2 linked regions of the Homo sapiens genome follow. The protein of the gene in region 2 interacts with the protein of the main gene of each other region in a pairwise test. Each region holds a gene or a part of one and is shown on either strand. Other genes may lie near its edges.

The links. Proteins that work in one complex are often made in the same cells at the same time.
Region 1: the proteins of PRMT8 (region 2) and TNPO2 interact in binary tests that used the Homo sapiens proteins (3 or more experiments, as listed by UniProt).

The regions. Positions count from the first base shown.
Region 1 is NC_000019.10:12,720,933-12,728,135, reverse strand, and holds the start of TNPO2 (transportin-2), read left to right. Parts: upstream 1-4,203; 5' UTR 4,204-4,367; intron 4,368-4,770; 5' UTR 4,771-4,887; intron 4,888-5,575; exon of another isoform or gene 5,576-5,659; intron 5,660-5,876; exon of another isoform or gene 5,877-6,002; intron 6,003-7,145; 5' UTR 7,146-7,158; coding exon 7,159-7,203. UniProt on the Homo sapiens protein: Probably functions in nuclear protein import as nuclear transport receptor. Serves as receptor for nuclear localization signals (NLS) in cargo substrates.
Region 2 is NC_000012.12:3,584,932-3,592,400, reverse strand, and holds part of PRMT8 (protein arginine N-methyltransferase 8), read right to left. Parts: intron 171-7,469; coding exon 49-170; intron 1-48. UniProt on the Homo sapiens protein: S-adenosyl-L-methionine-dependent and membrane-associated arginine methyltransferase that can both catalyze the formation of omega-N monomethylarginine (MMA) and asymmetrical dimethylarginine (aDMA) in proteins such as NIFK, myelin basic protein, histone H4, H2A and H2A/H2B dimer.

The DNA.
Region 1 (7,203 bases), on a different chromosome or scaffold from region 2:
CACCACAGGCTCTCAGATTTTGCCAGATGCAGTCTGTGCAGGTTGGGGTGGAGCACTGACTCATGTAACAAATGATGAGCATCTGCTATGTGAAGTCAGCTACCTAAACAGACAAAAACCCTGCCCTGCCAAGAATGGTGGCTCACATCTGTAATCCCAGTGACTGGGGAGGCCGAGACACAGGTGGATCACTTGAGCCCAGGAGTTCGAGACCAGCCTGGACAACACAGCAAGACCTTTCTTGCTACAAAAAATAAAAGTTGGCTGGGCGTGGTGGCTCACGCCTGTAATCTCACCACTTTGGGAGGCTGAGGCAGAAGGATCACTTGAGGCCAGGAGTTCGAGACCAGCCTGGCCAATGTGGTGCAACCCTGTCTCTACTAAAAATACAAAAAATTAGCCGGGCGTGGTGGCGCGCACCTGTAATACCAGCTATTCGGGAGGCTGAGGCAGGAGAATGTCCTGAATCTGAGAAGGCAAAGGTTGCAGTGAGCCAAGATTGTGCCACTATACTTCAGCCCGGGCAACAAAGTGAGATTCCGTCTCAAAAAAAAAAAAAACAAACAGCCTAGCTGTCGTGGTGGCTCACGCCTATAATCTCAGCACTTTGGGAGGCCAAGGCGGGCAGATCACAAGGTCAGGAGTTCAAGACCAGCCTGACCAACATGGTGAAACCCTATCTACTAAAAATACAAAAATTAGCTGGGGGTGGTGGCCCACGCCTGTAATCCCAGCTACTTGGGAGGCTGAGGCAGGAGAATCGCTTGAACTGGGGAGGCAGAGGTTGCAGTGACTACACTCCAGCCTGGGCAACAGAGTGAGACTCCATCTCAAAAAATTAAAAAAAAAAAAAAGAATAGGATACCTTTCCTCTTTCGCTTCCTGCTAACACACAATAAGGTTTTTCTGCTTTACTTTGCATGTGGGCTGAAAGGTCTCTCCCTCCTACTTTGGGGATGCTAAGCTAGCCCAGGTGTGACTTTGGCCTTGGGGGTGGAGTATGGGGGGAGGGAACACAGGAAGCTAATGGAGCCATCCCTACCTCCTCCTCCCCCAAAGCCACCAGCAGAGACTGGATCTTTAAAAAGCAACAGAAGCCTGGGAAGTAGGTCGCCCTGCAGCATCTCAGCCTCTATTCTAGTGTCAAGAGGCAGGAGAGGCTGAAAGTCCAGGCACATCCCTTTACAGTACTTACCTGCTCTGACCTGAGAAAAGTCTGAAGAGGGAGGAGAATCATATCCAGGTTTTGGTGAGTCACACAGCCCTGGCTTCTGACTATTCTAGTGCCTGTTGACTGTGTGATCTTGGGTAAGTCACTTAGCTTTTCTGTACTTCAGGTTCTTCATCTATCAAATAGGGGTAAAATAAAGAAGCATCTCTAGAGTCAAGTTCTAAAGTAAGGGCAATATTCATAGAATCTAACCCTGCCATTGTTTAAAACAGCTAGTGCTTTCCAGGGTGAAGAAGTTGGCTTGCGTTTGGGGACTGTGTTAAGTTAGTTGAAGTGCTGACCTTTGAACTCGGGGGACAGTGTGATGAGAGGCTTGGGAAGGGAGGCTGCTGTAAATTGAGAACACGTTTGTCTCACATTTCAGATTCGCGGTTGGACACCAATTCTTTTTTTTTTTTTTTTGAGACAGAGTCTCGCTCTGTCGCCTAGGCTGGAGTGCAGTGGCGCGATCTTGGCTCACTGCAAGCTGCGCCTCCTGGGTTCACGCCATTCTCCTGCCTCAGCCTTCCGAGTAGCTGGGACTACAGGCGGTCGCCACCACGCCTGGCTATTTTTTTTTGTATTTTTAGTAGAGACAGGGTTTCACCGTGTTAGCCAGGATGGTCTTGATCTCCTGACCTTGTGATCTGCCCGCCTCGGCCTCCCAAAATGCTGGGATTACAGGCATGAACGTGAGCCACCGCGCCCGGCTGGTTGGACACCAATTCTGTGAGTTTCTTTTGGCACAGAGAGCTTCTAATTGAACTAGGGTAAGTTTGCCAGGCATAGGGCTGTTGTGAGATTTGCATGAGATAACATTTGGCCTTTTTTTTTTTTTTTTTTTTTTTTGAGACAGAGTCTCGCTCTGTCGCCCAGGCTGGAGTGAAGTGGTGTGATCTTGGCTCACTGCAACCTCCGCCTCCCGTGTTCAAGCGATTCTCCTGCCTCAGCCTCCTGAGTAGCTGGGATTATAAGCGCAGGCCACCACTCCTGGCTAATTTTTTTGTATTTTTAGTAGAGACAGGGTTTCACTGTGTTAGCCAGAAGATGGTCTCAATCTCCTGACCTCGTGATCTGCCCTCGGCCTCCCAAAGTGCTGAGATTACAGGCATGAGCCACCACATCCGGTATTAATGAGATAACATTTGGAAACCACTTGACATGCAGTAGGTGCTTAAGAAATAGGAAAAAAGGCCAGGCATGGTGGCTCATGCCTGTAATACCAGCACTTGGGGAGGCCAAGGCAGGTGGATCACCTGAGGTCGGGAATTCGAGACCAGCCTGACCAACATGGAGAAACCCGGTCTCTACTAAAAATACAAAATTAGCAGGGCGTGGTAGCACATGCCTGTAATCCCAGCTACTCGCGAGGCTGAGGCAGGAGAATCACTTGAACCCGGGAGGCAGAGGTTGTGGTGAGCCGAAATTGCACCATTGCACTCCAGCCTGGGCAACAAGAGCAAAACTCCACCTCAAAATAAAAAAAAAAAAAAAAAAGGAAAAAAGGCCAGGCACGGTGGCTCACACCTGTAATCCCAGCACTTTTTGGGAGGCCAAGGCGGGCAGATCACAAGGTCAGGAGTTCAAGATCAGCCTCGCCAATATGGTGAAACCCTGTTTCTACTAAAAATACAAAAATTAGCTGGGTGTGGTGGCGGGTGCCTGTAGTCCCAGGTACTCGGGAGGCTGAGGCAGAATAGCTTGAATCCCGGAGGCGGAGGTTGCAATGAGCTGAGATCCCACCATTGCACTCCAGCCTGGGCGACAGGGCAAGACAGTGTCTCAAAAAAAAAAAAAAAAAAAAAAAAAAAAAAAAAAAAAGAAAGAAAGAAAGAAATAGGAAAACTGGGCCGGGCACAGTAATCCCAGCACTTTGGGAGGTCGAGGCAGGTGGATCACCTGAGGTCAGGAGTTCAAGACCAGCCTGGCCAACATGGCAAAACCCCATCTCTATTAAAAATGCAAAAAATTAGCCTGGCGTGGTGGCAGGCGCCTGTAATTCCAGCTACTCGGAAGGCTGAGGCAGGAGAATCGCTTGAATCCGGGGGCGGAGGTTGCAGTGAGCCGAGATTGAGCCATTGCACTTCAGCCGGGACAATGAGAGCAAGACACCATCTCAAAAAACAAAAAAACAAAAAAAGCCAGGCGCGGTGGCTCACGCCTGTAATCCCAACACTTTGGGAGGCCAAGGCAGGCAGATCATGAGGTCAAGAAATCAAGACCATCCTGGTCAACATTGTGAAACCCCATCTCTATTAAAAAAAATTAGCCGGGCGTGGTGGCGCATGCCTGTAATCCCAGCTACTCGGGAGGCTGAGGCAGGAGAATCGCTTGAACCCGGGAGGCGGAGGTTACAATGAGCTGAGATCGCGCCACTGCACTTCAGCCTTGTAACAGAGCGAGACTCCGTCTCAAAAACAAAACAAAACAAAACAAAGAAATAGAAAAACAAAAACAACAAAACAACAAAAACCCAAAACCTTGTCCTGATTCAACACTCAAATTCACCAGCTGGAGAGGAAGAAAAAATTCCGTGACCACACAAGGGCCAACAATGTGGACCACACATGCAGCAGGGGCTACTTTGTTCTGCCCCAAGGCTTGCGGAGGGCCGCTGAAAATTTGCCATATTATATGAAGGGGGTGAACCTTAACAAATTGTCTCCTGCATCCCAAACTCGCTCCCCATCTGATCTTTATCTGGGGCAGCCCCCAAATTTGACCAGAAAGCTCTTATCGTTCACACTCGCTCCAGGAACCCCCAAATCCAGCCCCAGCTCCCCAGTCTCACTCTTCTGCTCCCCATGCACCTCGGTTGGTCTAGAGACCCTCCTGCCAATTTGAGTCTCAGCCAAAACCCCAAAGCGCGGCGACCCTGGCGCATGGCAGGACGGGATTTGTAGTTCCAGGGCTTATCGGAGGGTGGGGGAGAGGGAGGCCTTTACGCATGCCTTGGTGGCGGCTTTCTGCACGTGTTTCTCAGCCCAGGTTTCAGTCCAGCGGAACTGGCTACCTCGGAATCCCAACTGCTCCTTTAGGGTGTCTTCCGCGATTCTCCGAGTGGAGTTAGGCGCCTGCCGACACTTCCCTAACCTTGGAGGCCCGGGACTTGATTTTCATGAATGAACGGAGCCGGGACTGACTTTGCCTACGGCAAGTGGGTTGAGATAGCTGTTCCCCTCCTTCAGGCAGGGGCAAAAATTGACCTCTGCCTCTCTCGAGGGTCAAAAAGTTCCTCAGGGCAGGGTGGGTTGTTCTTTGGGATTAGAGCTGGTGAATTCATTAAATATCGGCTTAGGGAGGGGCTGAATACAGTAAAAGAACAGCCTTGAGCCTTGGAGGGTAAAGCCACGTTTTTAAGGAACAATTCAGAGCTGGCCAGGTCATGCTTAACTTGGATGATCTCTAATCGCGCGAACTGCTCTTATACCCATTTGACAAGTGGGGAAACTGAGGCTTCAAGTGGCAGGAGGTCTCCCACTTTGTTATCGGCAGGGCAGGGAGGGGAAACCAAGACGCTACAGGGTCTCCAGCTTTTTACCATCTGCTCCTCTCTCAAGAGAAGGAAAAACGGTGCCCTACTGTCTTCAGACGTCGCAAGGATCAAGAAGATTTCTTTCTTCATGACCCTGCCCTTGCCAGAATTTCCTGCGCTGTTCCACCTCATTCAACTTCAGGTAGGGAAAGGGATTAGGCGTGGTTCAAAGTTTATTTTATTAGTTCATTTCGTTTTATTCAAAAATTTATATCCTTGTGGCTTTTTCATCTCCTTGTAAAAACTATCAAACAGTACTGGAAAATAATGCAAAAAGTGGCAGAGGCTTCTGTAGGAACCCGGCTTGTCTCAGGCACTTACTTTGTCCTGCTTTCTTTCCTTTGTCTCTGGGGTATAAAGAGCACGCTCAGCTCTTTCCTTGCGCACACACAGCGTACTCCTCCCAAGTACCTCTGGATGGGGGAAGGGAGGCACATTTCAATTTTTAGTGGAGGAAGGTGACAAGGAGGGTGCTGGCTCTGGCCGAGGGGTTCCTGGATCCATCACACACAAAGTCCCCACGCGCTACCAAACTCCTGGCTCCAGCTAAAGAGCTTGCGGTCAGGTCAGTGAAAGATGCTGGGAAAACGAGACACTGGGAGGACCGGCTGGCTAGAGAGGCCAAAGAAACGGCAACTCTTTGGTCACGTGACCGGACCTTGTCTCAGCCCGGGTTTCCCAAGTGCCAGGGCACGTGTGAAGGTTGAACCTTCCGATTGGCTCGGCGGGACCAGTTTGAACGGAGTACGGGAGCCGCGGCGGCTCACCTACGGCCGCGTTTTTCTTTTTTTTTTTTCTTTCTTTCTTTTTTTTTTTTTTTTTTTTTTTTAATTCTCTCTCTTTGGCTCCCTCCTTCCGCGCGAGTCTCTGGAGAAGCCGCAGCGCGAGTTGCCGCCGCTGCTGCCCGGGGCCGGGTAAGTGGGCCTCACTCAGAGCCCGACCCTCTTGGCCCCGGCTTGCGTCGACCCCCGCCGGGCACCGAGCCTGCGCCGCGCGCGGCCCGGGCGTCGGGGCCGCGCCCGACCGGGAAAGGCCGGGAAGCCGGTTGGGCCCGATCCTCCTGGCAGCTAGAACGGGCCGGGCGGGGGAGGGGGGAACCGAGCAGAGCTTAGGGGGTGGGGCCTCGGAGCCAGGCCATGTCGGGGCTCCTCAAGAAGAGGGCCAGTGGGACTGCTGGGGTCGGGCTGGAGGGGATCTGATTGGGGGAAGCGTCTGGGGACTGCTTGGGGCCTGATTGGGGGACGTCGCGAGGATCGGGTGTGTGTAGGGGCCTGTTTCGGTGGGGCTTGGTTGGGTCTGATTGGGGGAGGCCGCACTGAAAAGTTGAGCGGGGTGGGGGGAGGGGAGCTCGTTGGGTCCTGACAGGGAGGGGCGTCAGACTTCGGCCTAGAGGGTTTTCTTGGATCTGACTTCGAGGCGTTGCTGGGATCCGTTGAGGGGAATGCCCCGGGGGGTGTTTACCCAGGCCGAACTGGGGGAGGCTGCAAGGATCGGACCAGGGGGTTACTGACACGAGGTGGTGGGGGGCTCGGCCGAACTTGACTGGGAGAGGCAACAGAGATCCGTCAGCAGGGGTTACTGCTGACAGGGTCGGAGGGAATTTCAGGGAGAGGCTTGGCCAGACCTGATTGGGGAAGGCGACTGGGATCGGTCCAGGGGGCTCCTATAGTGGGTTGGCCGGGCTTGGCTGGCTCTCATTCGAAGAGGCAGCAGAGACCTACCTGGGGACTGCTTTGGGCCTGATTAAGGGGAATCCTTAGAATTTGGCTAGGCCACAGAGGGGGATATCTGGCATCCACTGAGCTTGAAGGGCAGGAACAGGGGACAGGAGAGATCAGGACGATCGTCTTGGGAGGGCGCATCTGGGGAAGCTCAGAAATTGGACTAGGGCAGGAGGCCTCTGGGATCTGGCAGAAGTTAAGGGCAGAGTGTCGGGGGAAGGGGACTCTTCAGGGACTGTGCCTGCATAGAAGAGACCACGGGGGCCGGGGCGCTATCACGGTCTGGGGCGGGGCCCCTGGATGTGGAGGCGGCTGGGCCCTCGCCCAGCCGCTGCGAGGGAGGTGGAAGCCTTCGGGCTCGGAGCCGGGGTCAGCGGCATGGGCCACCCTGGGACGAGGGCTCTTCGCTGGGTCCCATGAGGATCCGCCGGGCCCCGCCGCCGCCGCCTGTGGCCCGTTTCCACATCCCCCCTCCCGCGCTCCCGAGCCCGCGACTGCGCGGCCGAGGATGGCGCAGCTGGCGGGGACCCCGCACTTGGGCGGGCGTGGATCGGAGGCCTCCGCCTGTCCGCCGAGGGCGTTCCCGTCGTCATGCGGCCACCGCGGCCTCAGGGGCTCCACCTGGGTCTCACACGGAGCCCCAGAGACCCAGCGCTGACCCCGGCCCCTACCTCCGCAGCTTGCCTTGCGCCATGGACTGGCAGCCAGACGAGCAGGGCCTGCAGCAGGTCCTGCAG
Region 2 (7,469 bases):
CTCTGTGGGGCCCTTCTCCCTTATGTCCTTATGTCCCTCGGCACTTACCACATTTTTGGCATTTGGCTTCATGGATATGGTCCCGTAGATTTCCTCCCCCCTCCGGACAGTGAGGTAATCTTCCAAGTAGAAGACGGTCTGCTTCCAGTGGGTGTAGGGAGCATCAGGGGCTGAGGGGTGAGAGAACAGGGGAGGTGGGAAGAAAGAGTCAGAGACGAAGTCTCCAAAGGGATGAGGCTGGGACCCTGCATAGAAGTTGCTGGGCTTCCCCTGGGACTCACTGAAACCACCCACCCCAGTACTCTTGTTGGGTCAGGTGCATAGTCCTTATAGCCTTCCTCCAAGCCCCATCAGAACTCCCTCTCAGTCCCAGTGGCCTCTCCTCCCATCACATCCCCATCTCCTCAGTGCTGGGGATCAGAAGACAAACAACCCGATACTACAAGTTCATAGCAAGGGATGGATGAGGAATACCCTGTCACCCACTAAATGCATGGACATACATGCATCTGAACATGCTGCTGTTTTTAATTAGTTCAACAGAATGAAGATCTTCAGACAGTATGGGGAAGAGATTTGTAGAGTAGGCCCTCCTATCTCCCCTTAAATGACATCATTCATGCAAACTCCACAGCTAAACCAGTTTCCCCAGATCCACTGATATGGCAGGTACTTGGTCCTCAATCTTACAACTAGCTTTTCCTGCTGGGCACACATAGTGGCTCATAGCTGTAACCTCAGCTACTCAGGAAGCTGAGGCAGGAGGACTGGTTGAGCCCAGGAGTTCAAGACCAGCCTGGGCAACATAATGAGAAAACTAGGCGAGTGTGGTAGCACACATCTGTGGTCCCAGCTACTCAGGAGGCTGAAGCAGGAGGATGCATTGAGCCTGGGAGTTCAAGGTTGCAGTGAGCTGTGACTATACCACTGCACTCTAGCCTGGGTGCAAACCAGTGAGTGAGACCCTGTCTCAAAAAAAAAAAAAAAAAAAAAGAGCTTTCCCTGCCTGCTTCTCTGTGCACGGGGAACTAAACCTAGCACCTTGGCCCAGACCTGCTGTAGGGTTTCAGGTGTATCTTCCTAACCAGATCAGAAAGAAATGAGGGATGGTTCTTGTTCCACAGCCCTAATGCTGGCCCACAGCTCATTCATCCTGTATGACCCAAAGCCATAGTGGTACTTGCGCCTCCCCCATATCTGCCATTGAGTCTCTTCCCTCCCCTCTCAGCACACGATATATTCTCCAGTTAAATGTGAGGAGTTCTGCCTCAGAGGCCACCGTCCTTGCCAGCAGCTGTCTCTGAAATCCTTCCTCTCCCTCCTTTCCAGCCTCTCTCTTCCTCATCCTTCCTCTGGGAAGCCTTGCCTGACCCGCAAAACCTGGACTGAGAGCTCCCAAGGCACCCTGAGCTCCTGTTATTGCGGTGCCTGTCACACAAGATAAATGCCTTCCCCCCATCCCCGTTTGTCTGCATCCTCCATGGACTGCAAGCTCCATGAGGGCAGGGACCGGGCCAGCCTTGCTTCCTCGGTGCCTGCCTCTGTGCTTGGTAGATCTACGAGTATTGAATAAATGAATGATGGTAAGAACCCAAAGAGCAAATGTCTGTAGTGCTTCAATGTACTCGTACTGGAGTTCAATGTACTCCAGTTACCCTGGGGGCCTTTGGAATCTACAGACTGCAGAAGAACCCATCTTATTACAGGAAGTTCCTCTTGGTTTGGGCTGTTGCATTCCTCTACCAGGATTTCTTTTTTTTTTTTTTTTAGGACTAAGGATAAAGATGAGAAGACTTGGGGATAAGATAAGGGTCTTCAAAACACTTCAAAAGCTGTCACATGGAAAGACTTACATGTGGCCTTATCATGGCTTTGGGGGCAGAACAAAGGCTAGTCACTAGGCATGATTAGAAGGCAGATTTTTAATTTACCAAGAATTAGAGCTGTCCCACAATCATATGAGCCACCTGAGGTCCACCCTGGCAGGTGTTCACACAGCGCCAACTGGGGCTTGATCATGCACTGACTCAGACCAGGTGACCTCTAAGAGCTTTCAAAACCCCAAGGCCAATTTTAACAGCACTGAAGAGTCTGTCTTTCTCTGCCCTTCACAATGAACTGGCTTGATCAAATGTCAGTGGTTTGGAGAGAGACTCAAGTAGCCCTCCGTGTGTGCATTTGGGAAATCGATGCAAACTCAAGGTCATGGGGAGAAAGTGCAGCCTGCACATTTGGAAAGGGAAGGAGGATCATGAATGTGCAGTCTATCCCTTTCAGACCCTGCCTGGGTTCCTGAACACATCCAGCCTTTCTGGCCTTCAGGGCATACTGCTGTCTGCAGACAAAGTCCACCTGCTCCCAACAACCATCTCTCCCAGCTACCTCTAAATAGTCAAAAGATAGTTCCTGGTTATGTGTGGAGACTGTCAGTGTATGACTGACAGCACTCTCGCCCCCACTTCCACCTACACCAGCTCAGACAGGTGTCTCTCTCCTGTTCCTAAAGACCTTCAGGCAAAGGGATTTCAAGCAGCCTCCTTCTGTCACCTAATCCGATGCCTTATGAGACCCCCAGAGACTTCCTGGCCCAGATTTGTCAGCCATGGGGTCTGCCTCTGATGGTAGTCCCCAAAACATGCCGACTTTGAGTTGGAGGAAGATGATTATTTTCCTTGATATCAACATCAAAGGGTTAAGAACATCCATAAACATCTCGTTTCCATGATGGGCCCATTAGCCATGGAGTAATTGTCTAAACCAGTTTTCCCAATCCTGATTCTCCATCAAAGTGCCCAGGAGAAGCTGAGTAAAAGTCAATGTTTTGATTCTACTCCAAGAGATTTGAAGTCAGTAATTCTGGGGGGCGTGGAGGGGCAGGTGACGTAGACACACAGCCATGGCTGAATCGCAGTGCATCTCCTGACCTCCTTTGGGAAGGTAGAGTGGGAAAGACATTAATTAGGTGACAATAGCCCCGTGTCCAGTGTCCACTTTGCCACTGACATGCGATGTGACCTGGGGCTCCTTTTCCACATCTGCAGAATATGGCTCATGATATTCACCTCCTGACGTATTGTGAGGATGAGATGAGATGAGAAAGGGAAAGGATCATAGACTAAGGGTGATCAAACCTCCTGCTGTGCCTGGGACAGTTCCAGTTCACATCTGTTTTCCTGGCATAATGATTAATAGGTCTCCCTTTCACCTGCATACGTGTCCTTAATGGAAAGATGCGTTACATGGCCACCCTACCTAAAACATATTAGGCCCATGTTAGGGACTTACTAAGCCATTGCATCAGGCAAGTCTTTGGTCATTAGAGTGGTATATGATTTTATTAGTCCATCAACTATGGCTCTGGTCTGCAAAGATATGCCGCCTCTCTCTACTGGTGGAGAATGTCTTGGAAAACATCCAGAATGTCACCGTGCACAAGGGTGGGCGCTCAGGAAAGGGTTGTGGACAACATCTAGAGTTCTCCTTGTCAGGGAGGAAAGCTTTCCCTTCCCCTGCCCCAACCCCATCTATGACCATCCAGATTGTACAACTGGCTTTCAGCCTTCCCCATTCTGAAGATGCCTCCCTGCTCTTAGCATTCTGGCCCCACATACCCCTTTTCTCCCTCCCACAGTTCCCTTCCCCATCACAGTCTCTCTGATTCTAGGCTTTAGGCAGCTTTTCTTCTACATTTTGAAGTGAGCATGACCAGTACTGCCTGCAGCATTCCTAGTGCAGTGCATTCATTCACCATTCCACAGACTTCCACTTAGGATGCCTGCCACAGGCCGGGTATGGCTGTAGAATTGGGGAACAGCAAACGGGATGAACACCACTTTGTCCCCTCCTCCCCCGATCATACAGCCTCAGTGAGAAGACATTCAGGCAAATAGTGAGAAGTAGGGTGGGCACTATGACCAAGGATGGGGCTTGGGAACACAGGGAGCTGAGGGTACAAATGGCAGGGACTGGCCTCTCACCAGAGTTTTCCTGGTGCTTTTGGAAAGGGAATGGAATCCTGCTTCCCATCTCACTGACCAATGGCTAAGTGGCTGGTCGTCCTTTCTGGGATATAATTTTTCTAGCTGTAAGTTTGGAATTATATTCTCTAGAGAATTCATAGGCCTTTTGGAGAATTGAGGACTATGCACCAAGAAGCTTCTTTAATGTGGGAAAATGACTCAATGTCACAGGATGTCAATGGCAGAAAGGAGCTGCCTGAGCCCAAGGCGCAGAAAGTAAACTTGCCCAAAGTCCTTTCCAATGTCTGATCTGCCTACCTTGCTGATACCTGAAAAAACCAGGGCTTGCACCCAGGCCTGCTTCTGCTGGGGCTCCTGCCCTTCCACCTGCTACCTGGCTTTCCTGGATTACACAGCAGCCCCAGGGGCCCCAGTTCCCACTTCTACCCCCACCCCACTGAGGATGTGTTGTGGTGGGGGGGGCACCGTGCCCACTGGCTGCCACAGCCTGGAACCCTGGCTGTCTGTGCCTATTTGTGACAGCTTCTGCCTGGAGCTGCAGAGACGTCAGAGTCATTAGAAGGGATCATTTTTCAGGCTGTGCGGTATGGGATGTGTTTCTAAGTGGCCCGCAGAGCGCGCTACCACTGGGCTGAGAACAGAAGACTCAGTTGGGGGTTGATGCAGAGGGACCACACACAGCAGGCTACACTTTGCATCAAGTTCAAAAACAGCTGAGACCAAACAATACCTTGTTTAGGCACACACATCCATGTGATAAAACTTTTCATAAATAGCAAGGGAATAAGGAACACAAAATTCAGGATAATGTTCATCTGGAGGCGATACGGGAGGTGGGATGGGGTGGGGCATCCAGGAAGATGCAGAGGTGTTGGCAGCATTTCAGTCATTGAGTCAGGGCATAGCTCGAATCAATAAGTGTAAGCAAATTAATGCAAATATGCATTAATTGATTTACATTTAATTATAATTATATTACAGTTATTACCATGTCTTTCTAGTCAATATTTATATTTTAGTTAAAAACAATTTATTTTTAATATTAACTAATGTATTTACCTTCTAATAGTAATACTAATAAATTTATTAGTATTTATTAATTTATTTTGTTAGTATTTATTAATTCATTCTAGTTACTATTTACATTCTAGTTAATAGTAATTAATTTATATTCTAGTTGCTGAGTTATGTGGTGAGTTCATGGATATTCATTATATTAATATATAATATAATTATATATAATTAATATATAAATTAGCAAAAAAAGTGAACCATGAATGGTCCAATAATGACATATGGCATGAGCCAAGAATTAGGATTAATCTAAGTCTGTGCATCTGAGATCCATAAAAACAGAAAGGGTTACTCGGTCAGTTGTCAGAATATAGATGGTCTGAGTATACCCCACTGCTAACCCACATGAACTGGGAAAGAAGTTTGCTACCTGCTAGAAACAGAGCCCCCACGCTGACACGCGAAGGTGGCTGAGAAAGCAACTCAACAAAGTATTCTCCCACCCCCATTGCTACCCATATAGGCATGTGCCAAGAAGAGGGATCTACGTCAGCCAGAAAGCAAAGAGTCTTGGTGAGGCCTGAGGGTATACCTGAGTGAGGAGATGGAATAGCCTTTCCAGAAGAAAGTCAACATTGGTCAAATTCTCAACCCTCTGGTTCAGGGCAGTCTTGCACAGAGGCAGTGGTCCTTAAGCTGGAGCATGCATCGCAATCACCTGGAGGTCTTGTTAAGACACAGACGGCTGGCCCCCACCCCCAGAGTTTCTGATTCAGGAGGTCCAGGGTGAGGCTCAAGAATTTGCAATTCTAACAATTTCCCAGGTGATACTGGTGTTACCCGTCCAGGAACCACACTTTGAGAACCACTTCCCCAAGGCATGACAAACTGGAGACTGTAGGACCTCCAAATGTCTTTCAGAACCTAAGTTTGTAGAATTCTGTGCAAAAGGGAGGAGGCATAACACTATAATTGCAAAAAGAGGAGTAGGCTCACAACTGGGTTTAGATCCTTGGTCTTTGAGCCACGTAGGACTGTGGTGGGGGTGTGACCAAAGACTAGGAAGGAAAGCCACTGGGTTAGAGCCTTCAACACTCAGGGCAAATCCTCGCCATCTTTCAGGCAGCCCAGAGCCGATGTCTTGATTCTGGATGTGAGCTTAATCCAGGCTCCTCCACATGGGACCATGAAGAATGTCATCCCTAACACCCCAGAGCCAGGGAGCCATCTCTAGACAGGGTCCAGCAGGCTGTCTGCTTGACTTTGGAGACTAGAAATATTAATAGATCATCTCAAGGAAAATAAAACTATGGCTGAGAGCTGCAGGGATAGAGCCTGGGGTTTGGAAACTTAGAACTTTTCCCAGAGCATCCTTGCCCATGGACTTTCTCATCAGCAGGGCAGGCTCTGGGTTAGACATCATCCTGGTGATGGAATAGGCAGAGCCAGCTCCTATGACTTCATCCTTAGCTTCCAATCACAGCCACTGTCCCCAAGAAGGCTCCTCCCCAGCTCCCTCACTACCCCTACTCTCACCATTGCTAGGCACAGTCTTCCCAATCCTTCAAGATCAAAGTAAAATCCACCTTCCCCCTCCTGGCTGCTCCTGCCCACTGGGAAGACATGTACTGCTCCTGTGAGGAGGGCAGCAGCTGATAATGACCCAGATCAGGGCAGGAAAGCACCAGCACTGCCTGGCTGACGGAGACCAAAAGTCCCAATCTTAGTAATCAGGAGGCACTGGTTCTGGGAAAAGCCTTTCTATGAAGAGATAAATCTGTCTCTTGCCCTCTCTTTCCATAGGTAAAAGAGAATCATTGAGACCAGCCTGGGCAATGAGGCAAGACCCCATCTCTACCAAAAAAAAAAAAAAATTAAAAAGTATCCAGGCATGGTGGCATGTGCCTGTAGTCCCAGCTACTTGGGTGGCTAAGGCAGGAGGATCGCTTGAGCCCAGGAGGTCAAGGCTGCAGTGAGCTATGATTGTGCCACTGCACTCCAGCCTGGGAGACAGAGTGAGACCTTGTCTCTGAGAAAAAAAAAAAAAAAAAAAAAAAAAAAGCATCATTTTCTTCATGGCTTCTGGAAGTAAAGAATCATGTCCTCGATTTCTGGTAGAACTCACCTTCCCACTCCCCCTACTAGACATACAACTACTCACCTCCTCACCCCCTGATGACATGCTCCCAATTCCCAGGAAGACTCAATAGGAACACATTCTTAAGGGCAGGGGTCATATCATCATACACTTCTTAGAGCAATTTGTTTAGAACTGTGCTTTAGAAGACAGGAATGCAGAGATCACTGAGATATGATCCCTACTCATGCAGGAGACTGACAGTTGCAAGAAAGGGTGAAAATGCTGAATAAATAATGGCAAGCCCTGTGTTGGAATCCTGTGTGGTTGTTTAAAAAAAGAAGCTAGGTATCTCTGTGAGGCTATGAGAGTATCACCAAGATAACGTTGTTAAATAA